Homo sapiens: one gene and its partners. The protein of the gene in region 3 interacts with the protein of the main gene of each other region in a pairwise test. Each region holds a gene or a part of one and is shown on either strand. Other genes may lie near its edges. The genes, in order: ETV5, OASL and SEZ6L2.

The links.
Region 1: the proteins of SEZ6L2 (region 3) and ETV5 interact in a two-hybrid assay, tested with the Homo sapiens proteins (one large-scale study listed by BioGRID and IntAct).
Region 2: the proteins of SEZ6L2 (region 3) and OASL interact in a two-hybrid assay, tested with the Homo sapiens proteins (one large-scale study listed by BioGRID and IntAct).

Annotation. Positions count from the first base shown.
Region 1 is NC_000003.12:186,105,895-186,111,299, reverse strand, and holds the start of ETV5 (ETS translocation variant 5), read left to right. Parts: upstream 1-2,210; 5' UTR 2,211-2,360; intron 2,361-5,357; 5' UTR 5,358-5,405. UniProt on the Homo sapiens protein: Binds to DNA sequences containing the consensus nucleotide core sequence 5'-GGAA.-3'.
Region 2 is NC_000012.12:121,035,765-121,041,268, forward strand, and holds the start of OASL (2'-5'-oligoadenylate synthase-like protein), read right to left. Parts: upstream 3,483-5,504; 5' UTR 3,208-3,482; coding exon 3,010-3,207; intron 1-3,009.
Region 3 is NC_000016.10:29,896,325-29,901,753, forward strand, and holds the start of SEZ6L2 (seizure 6-like protein 2 isoform 5 precursor), read right to left. Parts: upstream 3,227-5,429; 5' UTR 2,696-3,226; coding exon 2,617-2,695; intron 1,661-2,616; coding exon 1,529-1,660; intron 798-1,528; coding exon 498-797; intron 1-497. Other genes in the region: ASPHD1 (aspartate beta-hydroxylase domain-containing protein 1), read left to right, coding at 4,648-5,429. UniProt on the Homo sapiens protein: May contribute to specialized endoplasmic reticulum functions in neurons.

The DNA of each region.
Region 1 (5,405 bases), on a different chromosome or scaffold from region 3:
TGAGCCACTATTTGTTACTACTCAACCCAGAACTATCCTACTTCTCTTTTCAAAGTGGAATGGAGAGACTTGGCTTGAGGCAAAGGTCACAAGAGCCAAACTCCAGGCATCAGGTCCAACCCTGTGAGGAAGTTGCTGTGAAGCGTGCGGCACTGTTTTCCTGTAGCCAAAGTTATAAAGTGTGATTGATGTGTTACGGTTTAGATGGTGAGGATATGTGGCTCTGTGGGCTGTAAGCCTTCCGGAGGGCTGGGGCCTGAGAGACTTAAGGGAAGAGGAGTAAGAAAGCTCCTTTGGAAAAATGAGTTTAGAGAGCAGGATGTCATGGGATGGGATGGGGAGGAGCGGGAGTGGGGGTAGACAAAATTGGGGAGGAGGAGGATCTGGGAGCTTACCTGGGCCCTTCATCTAGCTAGGGAGATAGAGCTCTCAGGAATGTCAGCAATAAGCTCAGAGCACAACTGTACTAGTGTAAGATCTCCAGCCACCAAACAGAAACGGTACCACCTGGAGAAAGAAAAAGGGCACTAAGGGAAAACTGGAGTCGGAAGCAAAATGTTCTACCAGGAAACTAGATCTCAAGGAACTGCTTGTTACATGTTCAGAGTACTTTCCATCCATCAACTCATGCCCATTTCAGTCTTCCAAAGTCAACAGCTCCAGCGTGCCTGGTCAGTGCTGAGCCCAGGACTCAACACGGGTGCTGCAGGTTGCTTAGGGGCACGCCAACATTTCAAGGGCTATAAACGACAGACCAAGTGTCCGCTCTGTTTAAGAGACACAAGTGGAGATAGGAAAGAACCTTTGACTTAAGTGTGGGGGTGGCAGGGGCAGGAACTGCCCCAGAGTTGGCCACCGTGGGACCCCCATTGCTAGGGGCTCTCTCCTGTCACTTAGCATCTTTCCTCCCCACCGCTGGCACGCGGCGTGAATGGCAGGGCACTCCAGCAGGACGAGAACAGAGCTCCGTCACAGGCCCCCAGCATCCCCGGAGAGAAGATAGAGCCGCCCCACGGCCTTCACAGGAGGGGGTAAGGGGGCGGAGAGGGGAGAGGATTGTTTGTTTATTTGTTTCCTGGAACACCCTGTTAAGAATCTCAGCAATTGCAGTTAGTGCCCTATCGTTTGGCAAGCAGAGCCGCTTCTCGTCGTTCCCAGCTGCACGGGATCTAATTCGCAAATACACCATCTTGCATTCAATACTTAAATGGAAAACAAGCAGCCCGGGGAGGGAGGCAAAAAGTCTGAGTCTGCATGCCCGTTTCGGAGGGATTTAGGTTTCCAGGTCGGTGGACTGGCTGCTGCTGTCCCCGGAGAGGATTTCTTTGAGCCCGAACCCTGTCTCACCTCGACTACAGAACCCACTCTGGCGGAGGTTACGAGCCGCAGTTAAAGAGAAAACGGGATTTGGTTGGGTCTTAGGCCTTGCCAGTACAAAATAGTAACAAAAATCTGTTTGAGAGCTGAGATTTTAAAAGGAGATGCTGCTTATTCTTCCCACTGGAAACCTGGTTAAAAGAAATTAAGGCCTCTCTTAAAGGTAACTAAGATTAGAGGGCTCGGTTTCCGTTTTCTGTGTTTCTGTGGGCTAAACGCCCAGGTCGGTCAGCGAGTTTGTGTGGAATGACGAATTCCTCTCCCCTGAATTCTAAAATGATAACTTTGCTTGGTGCTGCAGCTGCGAACGTCTGGCGCCAAGAGACCCAATTCTGGTCGGGGCTTTGCTGGATGGAGAAGTGGGGGTGAGTGGGTAAGGGGGAAGAGTCGTGCCTCGGTGAAAAGTCGGGAGAGCGGCGAGAAGGGAAGTAACGGCGGCTCCTCCTGGCCTCGGCCCCTTTAAGTGCTTCACTGACTCAGCTAAGCTTCCCCCTCAGGTCGCGTTTTTTATGAATGAAAAACGTCCTTACATTCATTATATAAACAAGCCTGTGCTGATTGGCCAATGGCCCCCGGTGCATAAATTATGTAAAACAGACCCCTGAGGGGGTGGAGAGAGATGCACCGCTGGCCAATGGGGGCCGGAGTTGATGGGGCGGCTTGGTTGGATTTGCCCGCAGACAGGGTAAACAAGAGGTGATGGACAGCCGCGGGAACGGCCTCTGGCCAATGGGAACAAGGCTGGGCTAGGGCCGCGGGCCAATGGCGGCGGGCGGAGCAGCGAGCCGCGGGGGGCCGGGCCAGCGCTCCAGCCTGGTTGGCAGCTGCGGCGCAGAGTCCAGCCGCTGGTGCGCGGAGCGGTTCACCGTCTTCGGAGCGGTTCGGCCCAGCCTTTCGCCCAGGCGCCCAGGCCCGCTGCGCGCGTGCGTGAGCGCGCCTGCGCCGCCGGGGCCGCTGCAAGGGGAGGAGAGAGGCCGCCTCAGGTGAGGGGGCTTTGCGGGGGCAGGGGGGAGATCGGAAGGGGCGTCCGGCCACTGGTCCGACAGGCCCAGCCGGCTAGAGTTCACGGGCTGATTCAGAATCTTCAAAGTCGGGGTGCAGTAGCTGGGGTGACCCCCCCCGGGTTGACCGCCCCCTCCCCCCGCGGCCCGGTCCGGTTTGGTTCCTGGGAGGCGTCGGGCGGGTGCGGCTAACGGTTCCGGAGCGCGGGGAGAGCGGCTTTCCACACGTCGTGGGGGAGGCGCCCCGGAGCGCGAGTGCGGGGGCTCCCGAGTGGATGGGGGATCGCGGAGTTGCGAGGCTTTCACAGTCTCTGGAGATTCGAGAGCCCCGAGGGGACTTGGAGGCTCGCGAGAAGAGACGCTTGGCGGAGCTCCGCAGTTGGGAGGAGGGGGCGGGAAGCAGTTTGAGGGGAATGTCTGAGAGGCGCTGCCCCCCAGAGCACCGGGAGGGGGTAAATGACACAGGCAAGTGCAGCCTGCGGGGGCGGGGGTCGACCAGGAACTTACGCAGGCCTTGCAAGTTTCAGGTGGTGGAAAGTGGACATCCAGTCGCCCTGCTCCCACCCAGCAGGCTGAGGGCGTCCGGCTGTGCGGCGACTCGAGAAAATCGGGGCGCACCGGAACAGCGGCCTGGGGATGGTGGGGATAACACGGGTGTGGAGGGGACAGCACCGAAAGATGCTGCAGCCTCGCAGCGGATTAGGGTTCCGGCCGCATTTTCAGAGGGTGGAGAAAACTCGGGGGGGAACCGAACTCCTGGTCGACGAGGGGGTGCCAGGGAGAGATGTTGGGGGTGGGGGGATTGGAAGCGGTTGGTAGCGCCGGGCGCCGCACCTCGTTTTTATGAATGTGGGTGACTTTATGAATGAAGCGGGTTTCTTTCGTTGGCTCGCTGCTCCCTGCGGCTTTTTTTTTTTTCTTCCCTTTTTGTGAATGAAGCATTGAGCTTTCTTCCTAAAACGCTGGGGTGAGGGGCCTGCGTCGGAGGCTGGGCGTGCGTTGGAAATGGGGGCGGGGGCGCAGCTGAAGGAGTTTTCATGAATGGGGAAGGCTGAGAATTGGGTGGAAGTGTGTCTTGTTTTGTGAATGGGGCCCAGCGCTAGAGATCCAGTTACAGCCTCTACCTGATGTGGCGGCCGCGGCTCGCTCTCCCATTCATAAAACCGGGCCCGCTGCGCGCCACAGGGGAGGGGCCTGGATCGCGCCGCTGCGCTGTGCTAAAGTTTTCCTGGGGGCGCCCGGGGCGCGGGTGGTGGGGGGGCAAAGGAAGTGGTTTAAACTCCTGGATGAACTCGAGCCTTTCCTTCAGGCTTTTAAAAAAATTATACTTGGAATACAATTTTTCTAACCCTGGAATGCCTCTTTTCCGTTCGTTTATGGCAGTTTATTTCTTTTAATTTTTTAGAATTTTTTTTGCTCTTCCGGGTGAAGTATTTCATCATGAGACTGAAAAATATCTCCCCCTCCCGTCTTCTACTGGTTGTCCCCTTCCTCCTAACACATTCACAAAATGTCTTAGGCCATGATTTAATCTGACAGATTTTCCTAAGCGACAGAGCACTCTCTCTTTCATGCCCCTCAACTCACTGCTGAGGTTTCTCAGATTTTGTATACGGTTTGGTGGCATTTGAGAGAGGCGTTATTCTGAACATTTCTTGTGGTGTTTGGACGGGGCACGCAGGCAGGCTGGCGCGAGTGTTTTTCTAGGAAGTTATGAACTGTGTGCTATTTTGCTCCTCTCTTTCCTTTGACTTTGAAAATATCTGATTCCTTGGGCCAAAGTGCTGCGGAGGATGCTGGCTGTGAAGGGTGTCCTTGTATCCTGCCCACTTATGAAAAATTTGATATGCTACACACAGTGTGAAAAACAAATTGGATGGAATTGCTCACCGGGGGAAAAGTTTCCTGTTTAAAATTGTGTATATGTCAAACAAAAGAAGTTGACCTTTAAGCATTTTGAATTGCTTAGAGCTGGAGTGAGTGAAATTAATGTTTTTCCACCTTTTGTTGACTTAACGGTGTTTTTATTTGAAGAATAAAAGTGTTTAGGAAGATGGTACCTCCCTGAAATTGTTACTTTATTCCACTCACGTTAGGAGAAGTTTTCTCCCTTCTAACCCCACCCTTTTTCCCCAGACTCACACACTTACCCGTCCTGAAATGAGTTTCATTTGGGGGTGGGGGGGTATGTCTAGAAAAAAATGATTCCGCTATATGAAACAGCCTAAGTTTTAAAAGACCTTTGGTAGAGATGCATTGTACCACATGCAATGGAATTAGTTTTTTTAATCCATTACTTTTCATAGACATTTTACTCTTTTAGAAGTTGGAGATGTCACAAATATCTCTGTAAGTAACCAGGGAGATATTTGTGACATTACAGATGCTATATCTGTTTAGTCCTCTTTTAAATAAAGAGTTGTGTGTGAAGATAAGTATACCTCTGATCAATTTATTCCAGGAACTATATATAGTGTTTTAACAGTGACCTACAAAATGCTTTTGGAAACACCATGTATGTCAGATCTTTAATTGCCAATAATTTGGAATACTTAAACCCAGTTTCTCTGCTTCCTGACACTGTACTGTCAAAAATTAAATTATCTCTTTTTTAAAAACCCTACTACAAATGCCCTGGAGTATATGAGAGAATCTTGAAATCACCCTTTTATTTTATTTTATTTATTTATTTTTGTTTTGGTAGAGAACAGACAGTAGCAAATCTGTAATTTTAATGATTTAAATAAGAAAGAAAAAATGATGACTGGGTAAATGGATTTGGCACGGAGTACATCCTGTACCTCTGATACCATTAATCAAGCCCGGCATTGGTGTGTAAAGCTTGCACCTTGAGTAGGTTTTAAGTACTTCACAGAAGGGTAATAATTTTGCACAGGCCCTAAAAAAAAGGCAGTCTAAAATTGTTTCATTTCTTTTTTTCCCCCCTCTTAGTTAAAATCTCCCAAATTCATATTACAGGAGGATCCCTTTTCCCCCAGAAATTACTCAATGCTGAAACCTCTCAAA
Region 2 (5,504 bases), on a different chromosome or scaffold from region 3:
GCATTCAGACCCAGCACCTCCACCCCCTGGGAGAGGGTTGGAGATGGCACCCTGTGTGTGAATGAAGGACACATTCCCCCCGAAGGCCAGTCTAGACTTCCCTTTCTTTTTGAGACAGGGTCTTGCTCTGTTGCCCAGGCTGGAGTGCAATGGCACGATCTTCACTCACTGAAGCCTCGACCTCCTGGGCTTAAGCAATCCTCCCACCTCAGCCTCCGGAGTAGCTGGAACTACAGGCATGCACCGCCATGCCCAGCTAATTTTTTATATATATTTTTGTAGAGTCGGGGGTCTCACCATTTTGCCCAGGCTGGTCTCGAATTCCTGGGCTCAAGCAATCCTCCCACCTTGGCCTCCCAAAGTGCTGGGATTACAGGCGTGAGCCACTGTGCCTGGCGTAGACTTCCCTTTCTGCCTTTCCCACTGGTAAGATCCAGGCAGAGAGAAAAGAACACATCCAGAACAGGCTTCCTGATTTGCTTCAGTTTTAAACCTATTTAAGCACAATTCATTTGAAGACGAGCATTCCCTTATGTGGACCAGCTCCGCTCACTAGATTTTCAGAGGGTGGGGAACGGGAGGGTTTAGACTCTAAATAAGATATATTATTCCTCATTAGTCATGGCTCACTGGGGATTGCTACCATTTAGTGGTTTCAAGAGGAAAAGTGGCTATGATGTGCAGGAAGTATTTGAGGCTTAGGTAAATAGCATTTCCTGCCGTAAAAACTCATTCTTGGCCGGGCGTGGTGGTTCACACCTGTAATCCCAGCATTTGGGGAGGCCGAGGTGGGTGGATCACTTGAGGTCAGGAGTTCGAGACCAGCCTGGCCAACATGATGGAACCCCGTCTCTACTAAAAATGCAAAGATTAGCCAGGCGTGGTGGAACACACACACACACAATAAACTTATTCTTGTAGCATCCTCCTCTTACCAGACATTCCTTATTCCCTCCACTTTATTCTCAAGTTTGTTGGGGAGGGGGTGGTCTAGGAGGGTCTGCCAGAGTCAGACTTGAGTCCCAGGCCCAGAAGAAAGCTTGGCAAGAATTATAATGATGCTTCTGTTTCTGAGCATTTATCGTGCATGAATCATTCAGCCTGCATTGCACCACTGGCTTGGTGAGGGAGAGATGATGATGATGCCCCAATCACAGATGAAAAGAATGTGGGTTTGAGAAAGAAGAGTGGGAAGGTCAAAACCACACAGCTGGTAAAGGAAGAAGCGAAGAGTCTGTCTAATATCAAAATTTGTGGTTTCTCACTTATAAATTGTATGGCCTCAGGCTTCATATGCTGGGGATAGGTGCAAAGAACGGATAGGGGCCCAGGGCTTCTAGATCCCTCTGTGAGTTGGTTGCCCCTAGAGAGAGAACTTGAGCACTGGGCTGGGAGTCAGGGGTCCTAATTCTAGTCTTGCCTTTGCCACCAACTCGCTGTGTGACCTTGGGGTATCTCTCACCCTCTCTGTGCCTCGGTTTACTTAATTTTTTAAGTGAGTCATTGGTGAGACTGTCTGATTCTCCAAAGTCTTTCTAGCTCCGACCCTCTTGAATTTTGATCTTAGCTAGCACAGGCGGTGGCATGAAACAGCTGGAGGAAGGGCTTGGGGGAAAATCTCAGTGAGGGGGGCTTGGGTCCCTTGAGTCAAGTTCAAATCCCAGCTTCAACACTGTGTGACCTTGGGCAAGTCACCTCACCTCTCTGAGCCTCCATTAAAAAATCATTTTAGGCCGAGTGCAGTGGCTCACTGTAATCCCAGCACTTTGGGAGGCCGAGGAGGGCAGATCATGAGGTCAGGAGATCGAGACCATCCTAGCCAACACGGTGAAACCCTGTCTCTACTAAAATACAAAAAATTAGCCGGGCGTGGTGGTGGGCGCTGTCGTCCCAGCTACTTGGGAGGCTGAGGCAGGGGAATTGCTTGAACCTGGGAGGCAGAGGTTGCAGTGAGCTGAGATCGTGCCACTGCACTCCAGCCTGGTGACAGAGCAAGACTCTGTCTCAAAAAAAAAAAAACAAAAACAAAAATCATTTTATTGGCCGGCCAGACATGGTGGCTCACACCTGTAATCCCAGCACTTTGGGAGGCCAAGGTGGGCATATTCTTGATCCCAGGAGTTCGAGACCAGCATGGGCAACATTGGTGAAACCCTATCTCTACAAAAAATACAAAAATTAGCTGAGCATGGTGGTGCATGCCTGTAATCCCAAGCTATTTAGGAGGCTGAGGATCACCTGAGCTCAGGGAGATTGAGGCTACAGTGAGTGGTGATTGTGCCACTGCACTCCAGCCTGGGTGACAGAGCGAGACCCTGTCTCTAAAAAAAAAAAAAGTCATTTTATTATCAAAAAGTTAAAACACATAGAAAAATAGATGATACAACTAACACTCATATACCCAACTAGTTGATTCAACAAGTCTAAATTCCTGGCTACATGTGCTTAATCTAAGCCACGTTAAAGTAAATTATAGGCACCAAGGAACTTTGTCCCTAAAATACTTCAGTGTTCGTGTCCAAACAAAAGACAACCTTCTGATAACCACAAAACTACTGTTACACCTAACAAAATCAACAATGATTTCCCATATCAGATATATGTACTATCTGATATCTAGGCCAGTTGTCCCCAAACTATATTTTACAGATGGTTCATTCACACTAGGATCCAACCAAGGACCTCGCATTGTATTGGTTCTGAGCCTCCATTTGCTAATCTGTAAACTGGGCAAAGAATAGTACCTATCTCACAGAGTGCAAGAATTAGAGATAGTGTATGTTAAGAGGTTAGTCCAGTGAGCCCCCAAATGTGAGCTATTATTACTAGACTCATTCTACTCAAGGCAGTGGTGCAGTGGGGTGTAGACAGCTAGGTGGGATGGGGTATTCTGAGATGTCATCAGCATGGGCTAGGGATAAGGAGGACAGGGGTCCCCAGCATCCCCAGGGACGTGGACTCTGATACTGGGTTTTGTCTTGCGTGGGGGCTGGAGGAGCCCAGTCTTACCTTGACTACCTTCAGCACCCGCACATCCTGGTCCAGCCCACGCTTCCCCTGGAAATGCTCCTGCCTCAGAAACTCCTCCACGGTCCGCACAGCGTCTAGCACCTCTTCCTTCCACTCCCGGTGGGGCTGCAGCCACTGAGCCACGAAGGAGTCCAGCCTGGAGGCTGGTGTGCTATACAGTTCCTGCATCAGTGCCATCTCTGTCCCGAGAGTACCGCTGCTGGGCAGATATATAGCCAGGCTCCTACCCAGCTCCCTGGCACACACCTCCTTTTTTAAGGTAGCTCCTCCTCAGCTGCCCTCCAGTGCTCTGTGGGAGGAGGGACCCTAGCAGAGAGGAAACCAGGTGTGACGGGCTGACTCCAGGTCCCCCTTCTTGGAGACACCCTTGCTGCAGTAGGGGCACAGGAGGACTCTGGGCTGAGGCTGGAATATCTGGGGCCACCTTAACAGGCTGGCCGTCTAGTCAATCTGTCATCAGTTTCGATTCTCAACTTTTAGAGTTCTCCTTTATGACGTTGGGAAACTGAAGTTGGATAGTGTTTGACCCCAAAGGAGGCAACTTGCCCAGTAGGTTGGGGTTGGATAGTTGTTAGTCAATTCAACTGCTTACATCTGTCTAAGGAAATTGAGGCTTGGGAACGGAAGGGACTCACTAGTGTTCAGGTGGTGGAGTGAGAATCTGGAGCCCAAGAGAACAGACTGGGAATTCTAGTCTACCTGTGCCAGACTCTAACCTCTTTGACCCTCACTATTCATAGAGTGGGTTTTTTTGTTTTTTTGTTTTTTTTTTTTTTTGGCCGGGTCTTGCTCTGTTGCCCAGGCTGGAGTGCAGTGGTGCAATCTCAGCTCACTACAACCTCTGCCTCACGGGTTCAAGCGATTCTCCTGCCTCAGCCTCCCTAGTAGCTGGGACTACAGACATGTGCCACCACGCCCGGCTAATTTTTTTTTTGTATTTTTAGTAGAGACGGGGGTCTCACCATTTTGGTCAGGCTGGTCTCAAACTCCTGACCTCAAATGATCCGCCCACCTCGGCCTCCCACAGTGCTAGGATTACAGCGTGAGCCACCGCGCCCGGCCCATAGAGTGGGTTTAACAGGTATTATGATTCACGCACTGAACCAAGAAGTTCATGCATTGAGCCAAGAAGACAAAATAAGATGAGGTTCCTGTTCCAAGGGGACTCCCAGAACGGTGGAGGAGACACAGAAAAAAGAGACTGCAAAAGTCCAGTGCGATGAGTTAAGTAGGAAAAAAGCATGAAAACATGAAGCCGGCAGATGAGTTTCATTTGGTGTTAGCAGACACCTGCTTGAGAGGAATCTTAAAGACTGGGGATCCGGGCTGGGCATGGTGGCTCATGCTTGTAGTCCCAGCACTTTGGGAGGCCAAGGTGAGAGGATCACTTGAGGCCAGGAGTTCAAGACCAGCCTGGGCAACATAGCTGGACACCTGCAACTTCCCAAACTCTGAATAATATTAAGTGCTCCAGGGCTTAGTCCTGGGTCCTTTTCTCTTCTTGTTCTAGACTTACTCCCTTGGTGATTTCAGCCAGCGTTTAAATGTTTTTACTCTGGCAACTTCCACATTTTAATTTTATTTTTATTTATTTGTTTATTTTTGAGATGGAGTCTCACTGTCTCGCCCAGGCTGGAGTTCAGTGACACAATCTCGGCTCACTGCAACCTCTGCCTCCCAGGTTCAGGCGATTCTTGTGCCTCAGCCTCCCAAGGAGCTGGGATTACAGGAGCCCGCCACCGCGCCTGGCTAACTTTTTGTATTTTTAGTAGGGACAGTGTTTCACCATGTTGCCCAGGCTGGTCTTGAACTCCTGATCTGCCCTCCTCGGCCTCCCAAAGTGCTGGGATTACAGGCGTGAGCCACCATACCCAGTGACTCCCACATTTGTATCTTAAATCCATACCTCTTCCCTGAAATCCAGACTCATGTATCCAACTCCCCACTCCACATTGGCTTTGAATTCCGGTCTGCCCTTTGCCACACTTGTAACTTCTCTGCTTCTGTGGTGAGGATGATTGCAAGGGCAAGAACAGATGTAGGGAGATGGTCAGGACACTGCACAGTGGTGCAGGTGAGAGGCAGTGGTGGCCTGGAGTTTAAAACTCCAGTTTTTGTTTTAAAAACAAAAAGTTTTTTAAAAAATAGCTAGGTGTGGTGGTGTCCACCTGTAGCCCCAGCTACTTGGGAGGCTGAGGTGGGAGGACCACTTGAGTCTAGGAGTTTCAGGCTGCAGTGAACTATCATGGTGCCACTGCACTCCAGCCTGGGTGACAGCATGAGACTCTGTCTCCAAATAAAAAATAAAAAAGACTGGCACTCCAGCCAGGAGGATGAGGGTACAGCATAGAGGCTGAGAAGTATAAATAATGCTAGGATATGCCAGGGACTCAAGTGTGCTGTGTGCCTTGGGATGAAAGGGTGAGCAGGGGAGAGGTTAGAAATGTACCTGGACAGGTGGGCAGGATTGAATC
Region 3 (5,429 bases):
GCTAGAGTGCAATGGCTGGATCTCAGCTCACCACAACCTCCACCTCCCGGGTTCAAGCAATTCTCCTGCCTCAGCCTTCTGAGTAGCTGGGATTACAGGCATGCGCCACCACGCCTGGCTAATTTTGTATTTTTAGTAGAGACAGGGTTTCTCCATGTTGCTCAGGCTGGTCTCGAACTCCCGACCTCAGGTGATCTGCCCGCCTGGCCTCCCAAAGTGCTGGGATTACAGGCTAGAGCCACCATGTCCATCACTATCTTTAAGCAATGCTCCCTCTCCCACCTGAGCCAGAACTCCCTTTCCCAACTGTTATATAGCTGAAACAATTGGAACACTGCCTGGTACATAGTAAGGGTACAGAAATGCTACCTTTGTTATTATTATTCTCCCATCTGTACCCAGGACTCCTTCCACAGTTCCCAGCAGCCTCTCTCCCATCCATCCCCAGCGTGTACCTCTCCGGTCCTCCCACCCCCATCCCCTTGCTGTCGCCTCACCTGGGCTGGTCACCGTAGTGGTAACAGTTGTCGTGGTGATGATGGTGGTCGTCGTCTCCTCCTCTCCTCCCTCAGGCCCAAGGGGAGGCCCTGGGGAGGCAGGGCTGGGTGGGGGTGGGGCTGTGGTTCCTGGGGGCGGGGTCAGCAGTTCTGGCGCAGTGGGGCCTGCCCCCCTGACCCCGTTAGGGGTGACGGCTGTTGTCAGAGGCCCTGTCCCCGGCTCAGTGGCCCGTGGCAGGGAGGGCACTGCGAGAGTCTGGCCGGCCGGAGGGGTGGCTAGCGTGGGGTCCCGATCAGATCCTGGGACAGTGCAGGGAATATCAGAGCACAGGAGGAGCACATGGAGGACCTTGGGTGGGGAGCAGGGCTGAGGGAAGCTAGGGGTTCCCCTGCCATACCACAAAAGCCTCCCGCACAAGGTACAGCACCCCCCACCTTTCCCTTCCCCACCCCAGCCCCTACCTCCTCCCAAGGCTTCCACAGCCTGAGTCCCCCCTCTTTCTCTTCTGGTCCCTTCTCTCCACCCAGCCCCTTCCACCCTGATACTCCTCTCCCTGAGCCTCTCTCTCTGCCTCCTCACTCAGATCACGTTCTCTCTCTGGTTATCTCCTCTCTCCTCTGTCTCATTCTCTCTCGAACTCTTTATTTCCCCATTTCCCTGTTTAGTATTCTGATTGCACTCTGATTTCATGATTCGAGATCCACTAGTTTTTGTGTTTCATTCTCTCTGTCTCTGTCTTCCACCATTTCTCTGAGTCTGGTTCTCTGAATTTCCATCTCTGTTTCTATGTGTCTGTTTTTCTGTCTGACTGTCACCTAATCATTCTGTCTCTGTCTCTCTGGTTCTGTCTGTGCCCAGGTTTGACTTTCTCTGACAGTCTCGTTCTGTGTTCCCTGAATCTCACAGGAATGCAGGCTCTTTCCTCTGCAGTCTCTCTCTGCCTGCTCTTCTCTAGCCTGGCTCCCCATCTCCCTGAGCCCATATCCCTCCCTCTGCCTCTAGGCCACTCCTGCCACTCTGGGGGCCTCACCTGGCAGGTAGCCCATCTCTGGGCCCCTCCTCAGCAGGGCCCCATGAAGCAGTTCAGCCAGGGCCTCAGAGGCCACCGTGGGGGTCTCACTTCCAGGCTCTGGCAATATCTCCTCCTCCTTCAGGGGCAGACCTAGGAGGTGAAGTTGTGTGAGCTTCTCCACTTCCCCACACCCCTTCCTTCTCCAGAGAGATATTTTCTAGAACTCTTCCTCCCTCCTCCATCAGCTGGGCCTGCAGGGGCTCAGATGGTCCCAGGCTCGACTGAGGGCCAAGATCGGAGGAGGGGCTCCCAGCTGCCCTCATACTCCCACTCCCACACCTCTTCTCTCCCCTCCCCTCTCCCTTCTCCCTGGGCTGTGTGGGCCTTCATTGAACACCTTAGCTCTTATGGACCCTGGACAGCGCCAGCAAGGCAGAGGGGTCGCCGGTGCTGCCTTCCCTTTCACCTCAGTGGTGATCTCCCCCCAACCCTGGGGCTCTGCAGAGGATCTGGCCGCACCTCCCAGCCCTTGCTTCCGCAGTGCCTGGCTTTCTCTCTGGGTTTCTGTCTCTGCAGTGTGGCTGTCTTTTCTCTCTCTCTCTCTCTCTCTCTCCCCCCCACCCTCTCTCTCTCTGGTCCTCTGCAGTCTCTGCCTCCTTCCCTGGAGTCTGGCTGGGGGTCAGAGTGGGGGACTGAAAATCTGGTCTTTGAGCCCTGCCTCTGCTCATCTGTCTTTGTCCATTCATCCAAGAACAGTTGTGTGTACAGCGCCTGGCATCTCTCTCAGCACCTCCATCTCCCACCCAGGTCCCTCCATGCTTCTGCCGCCTCCGCAGACATCCCCCCAACTTTCCCAGCCCTCCTTCTTGGATCTAGCCCCTGAGACACTGCTAAAAGCTTCTCTCATTCATTTCTCTGCCTTCTCAATATTGAGGGTTAAGGGGCTTCGGGTTCAAGCCTGAAAGCTCTGGCTTGCCCCTTCCCCATCAGCTGTGCCTCTCCCCTCCCCCATGTGCTCGGAAGACCCAGGATATTAAGAGAAAGGAGGGTGGAGGACCCCGCTGGACGCCTTCCTGGGGCCCACCCCCACAGTCTCATGTCCTTACCCTGGATCCAGGGACAGCTCAGCAGAATTAGGAACAGCAGCTGGGGAGGCGGCGGGTGCTGGGCCCTGGGAGTCCCCATGGCGACTCACCCCGATCTCTCTCCTCTGTGCCTCTCTAAGTAATCTGGCTGCCACCTTTCCTCCGTCTCCGTTTATCTTTCCCTTTAATTGTTTTTTTTTTTTTTTTTTTTTTCCTCGTAGGAGTCAGCAAAGAAAGACAATTTCTCTGCCCCTTGGGATGGAGGGGCAGAATTGGGCTAGGGGTCGCCTGGAGCCCACCCCCCTTTGCTCAGTCTCCTCTGTCCTCTTCTCGCGGCTCTGTGGTGGAGGGGGCGCGGCTCCGGCTGCAGGGGGTGGGGCCGAGAGGGCCGAAGGGGCCGGGTGGCCTGGGTTACCCTCCTGCTCAGGCGCCTGGGTCCACTGGGCTGTCTGGACCCCAAGCTAGGGGACTGGGGAGGAGAAAGACAGCTTCTGGGGGTTTAGGGTGGGGTCGAGGATCGAGGGGGTCTCCACTGGGCTCTAGCGGGGCTTGTCGGGGAGGGGAAGGGGTGGGTTGGGGAACTGGGAGAGCCGAAGCTCGGGCACTGGAGCTGCGGGAGGGAGAAGCTGAGAAAGGTATCGAGCCCACGTCAGATCCTGGGGACGGGCGGAGGGAGGGGCCTGGGATTTATTTGACGGGGAGGGAGGAGGAGGAAGTGCAGATGGAGGAGGGAGGGATCATACGAGCCAGGGCCGTAATCCTCACTCCCGCGGCCCCTAGGGGAGGCAAAGGAAACTCTCTGGTCCCAGCAGTAATTAGCCCCCTCCGCCTGCCATTCCAGCACATCTGGAATCTGAATCTCCTCTTCCCAGGGTGCCGAGGGGCTGCATAGCTTGGTTCGCGCCTGCTAGGCCCCCAATTATGCCCCCTGTTCACATTCAGACCTCCCAAGGGGCTTCCCTTCCCCTTTTACAGTAGCTCGGGTGGAATGGGCTCTCCCTCCTCCAGGGGAATAGAGAGCTTCCACGATTGTGACAAGTCTCGTGGGTGACGGGCCGGGGTTTGGGGAGGAGAGACAGACCCCTCCTCTTCCATAAACCCTGACCCCGGCCAGCTAACAGGCGGCCTCGGCTCTGATTTTCCCTCCGGAGCGCCCTTTTCAGCACCAGCGGCGCGCGGACAGCTCCCCTCGCCCCGCCGGGGCGGGCCCGGCCCGACGCCGCCCGCGATTGGCTGAGGCCGCTTTCGGTGTTTGCCAGGCTCGCGGGCTCCCGGGCTGCCTAGGGCCAGCGGGAGTCACAGGCCGACCGACCGACGGACCAGCCGCCCGACGGACTGGCCTCAGCATCCTTGCCCGCAGTCCCGGGCGCCTGCCCAGCCGTCAGTCCGCGCTCGCCCCGCCCCTCAGGCCCCGCCCCTCAGGCCCCGCCCGATACGACCCGCCCCTTCTTTCGCATTGCGGGACGGCTGGAGGCTGGCACCGTGGCCCCTGCGCCCCACGTGGCGCCCTTTCCGGGCGGGGGGGGTGGGGAGGCACCTCCAGCGACAACTCTCCCCCCTCCCCCGGCACCCGGCTGATTTGCTGTGCCACTGGGAGGGTTCGGGGGTGGCTGAGCTGAGAGGGCTCCGGGAAGGAGTGACGTCAGGGTGAGTGGGAGCCCAGGAAGGAGCGAGTAGGAGAGAGGGAGCGAGAGCCAGGCAGGACCGCAGGGTCGGGGCTAGTGAGGAGCGAGGGCAAGGAGAGAGCAGTGAGGCCGGAGAGAAAGAAGCTGCCGCGGAGGAAGACAGGCTGCGGGTTCCCGGGACTGCAGGTCCAGGCAGGGTAGGAACCGCTGCCCAGGGGAGCTAGGAGGAAGCGGGGAGAGAGAGCGAGCGAAAAGCGGGGGTGGGGAGGAAAGGGGGAGATTGAGGTGGGAGAGAGAAGCAGAGCGAGAGAGAGGAGGCTGCTGGAAGGAGAAAGAAGAGGGTGAGGAGGCGACAGAGGGAGAGGAGGAAGAAGAGGTAGAAGGAGAGAGAAAGGGGAGAGAAAGGAGAGAGGAGGGTTGGAGGTGCATGAAGGAGGGGAGAGGGAGCTTCAGCGTGGAGAGAGGACCGCGGAAGGAGAGAGAGACAGCCCAGAGTGGAATGTGGAAGGGAAACAGTCCAGCGGGGAGCCAGGGGGCAGCCATGGAAGGGACAGGTGGGGAGCTGGGGGGACAGGGGAACTGGGGTCCGGAGGACGCCCCAGGCCTCTTGGCCAGGGCCTCCCTGATCATGCTCCCGTGGCCACTACCCCTGGCCTCCTCGGCCCTCACCTTGCTCTTCGGGGCCCTCACTTCCCTGTTCCTCTGGTACTGCTACCGCCTGGGCTCCCAAGACATGCAGGCCCTAGGGGCTGGGAGCCGAGCTGGGGGTGTTCGTGGTGGGCCTGTGGGATGCTCGGAGGCCGGCGGGCCAAGCCCAGGGGGTCCTGGGGATCCCGGGGAAGGACCTAGGACGGAAGGCCTAGTGAGCCGGCGGCTTCGGGCCTACGCAAGGCGCTACTCCTGGGCTGGGATGGGTAGAGTGAGGCGGGCAGCTCAGGGTGGCCCAGGCCCTGGGAGAGGGCCAGGGGTCCTAGGTATTCAGCGCCCAGGCCTGCTTTTCCTACCAGACCTGCCTTCAGCCCCCTTTGTGCCGCGGGACGCCCAGCGGCACGACGTGGAGCTCCTGGAGAGCAGCTTCCCTGCCATTTTGCGGGACTTCGGGGCTGTGAGCTGGGACTTCTCAGGGACTACCCCTCCGCCTCGGGGCTGGTCCCCACCTCTGGCCCCCGGGTGCTACCAGCTCCTGCTGTACCAAGCAGGCCGGTGCCA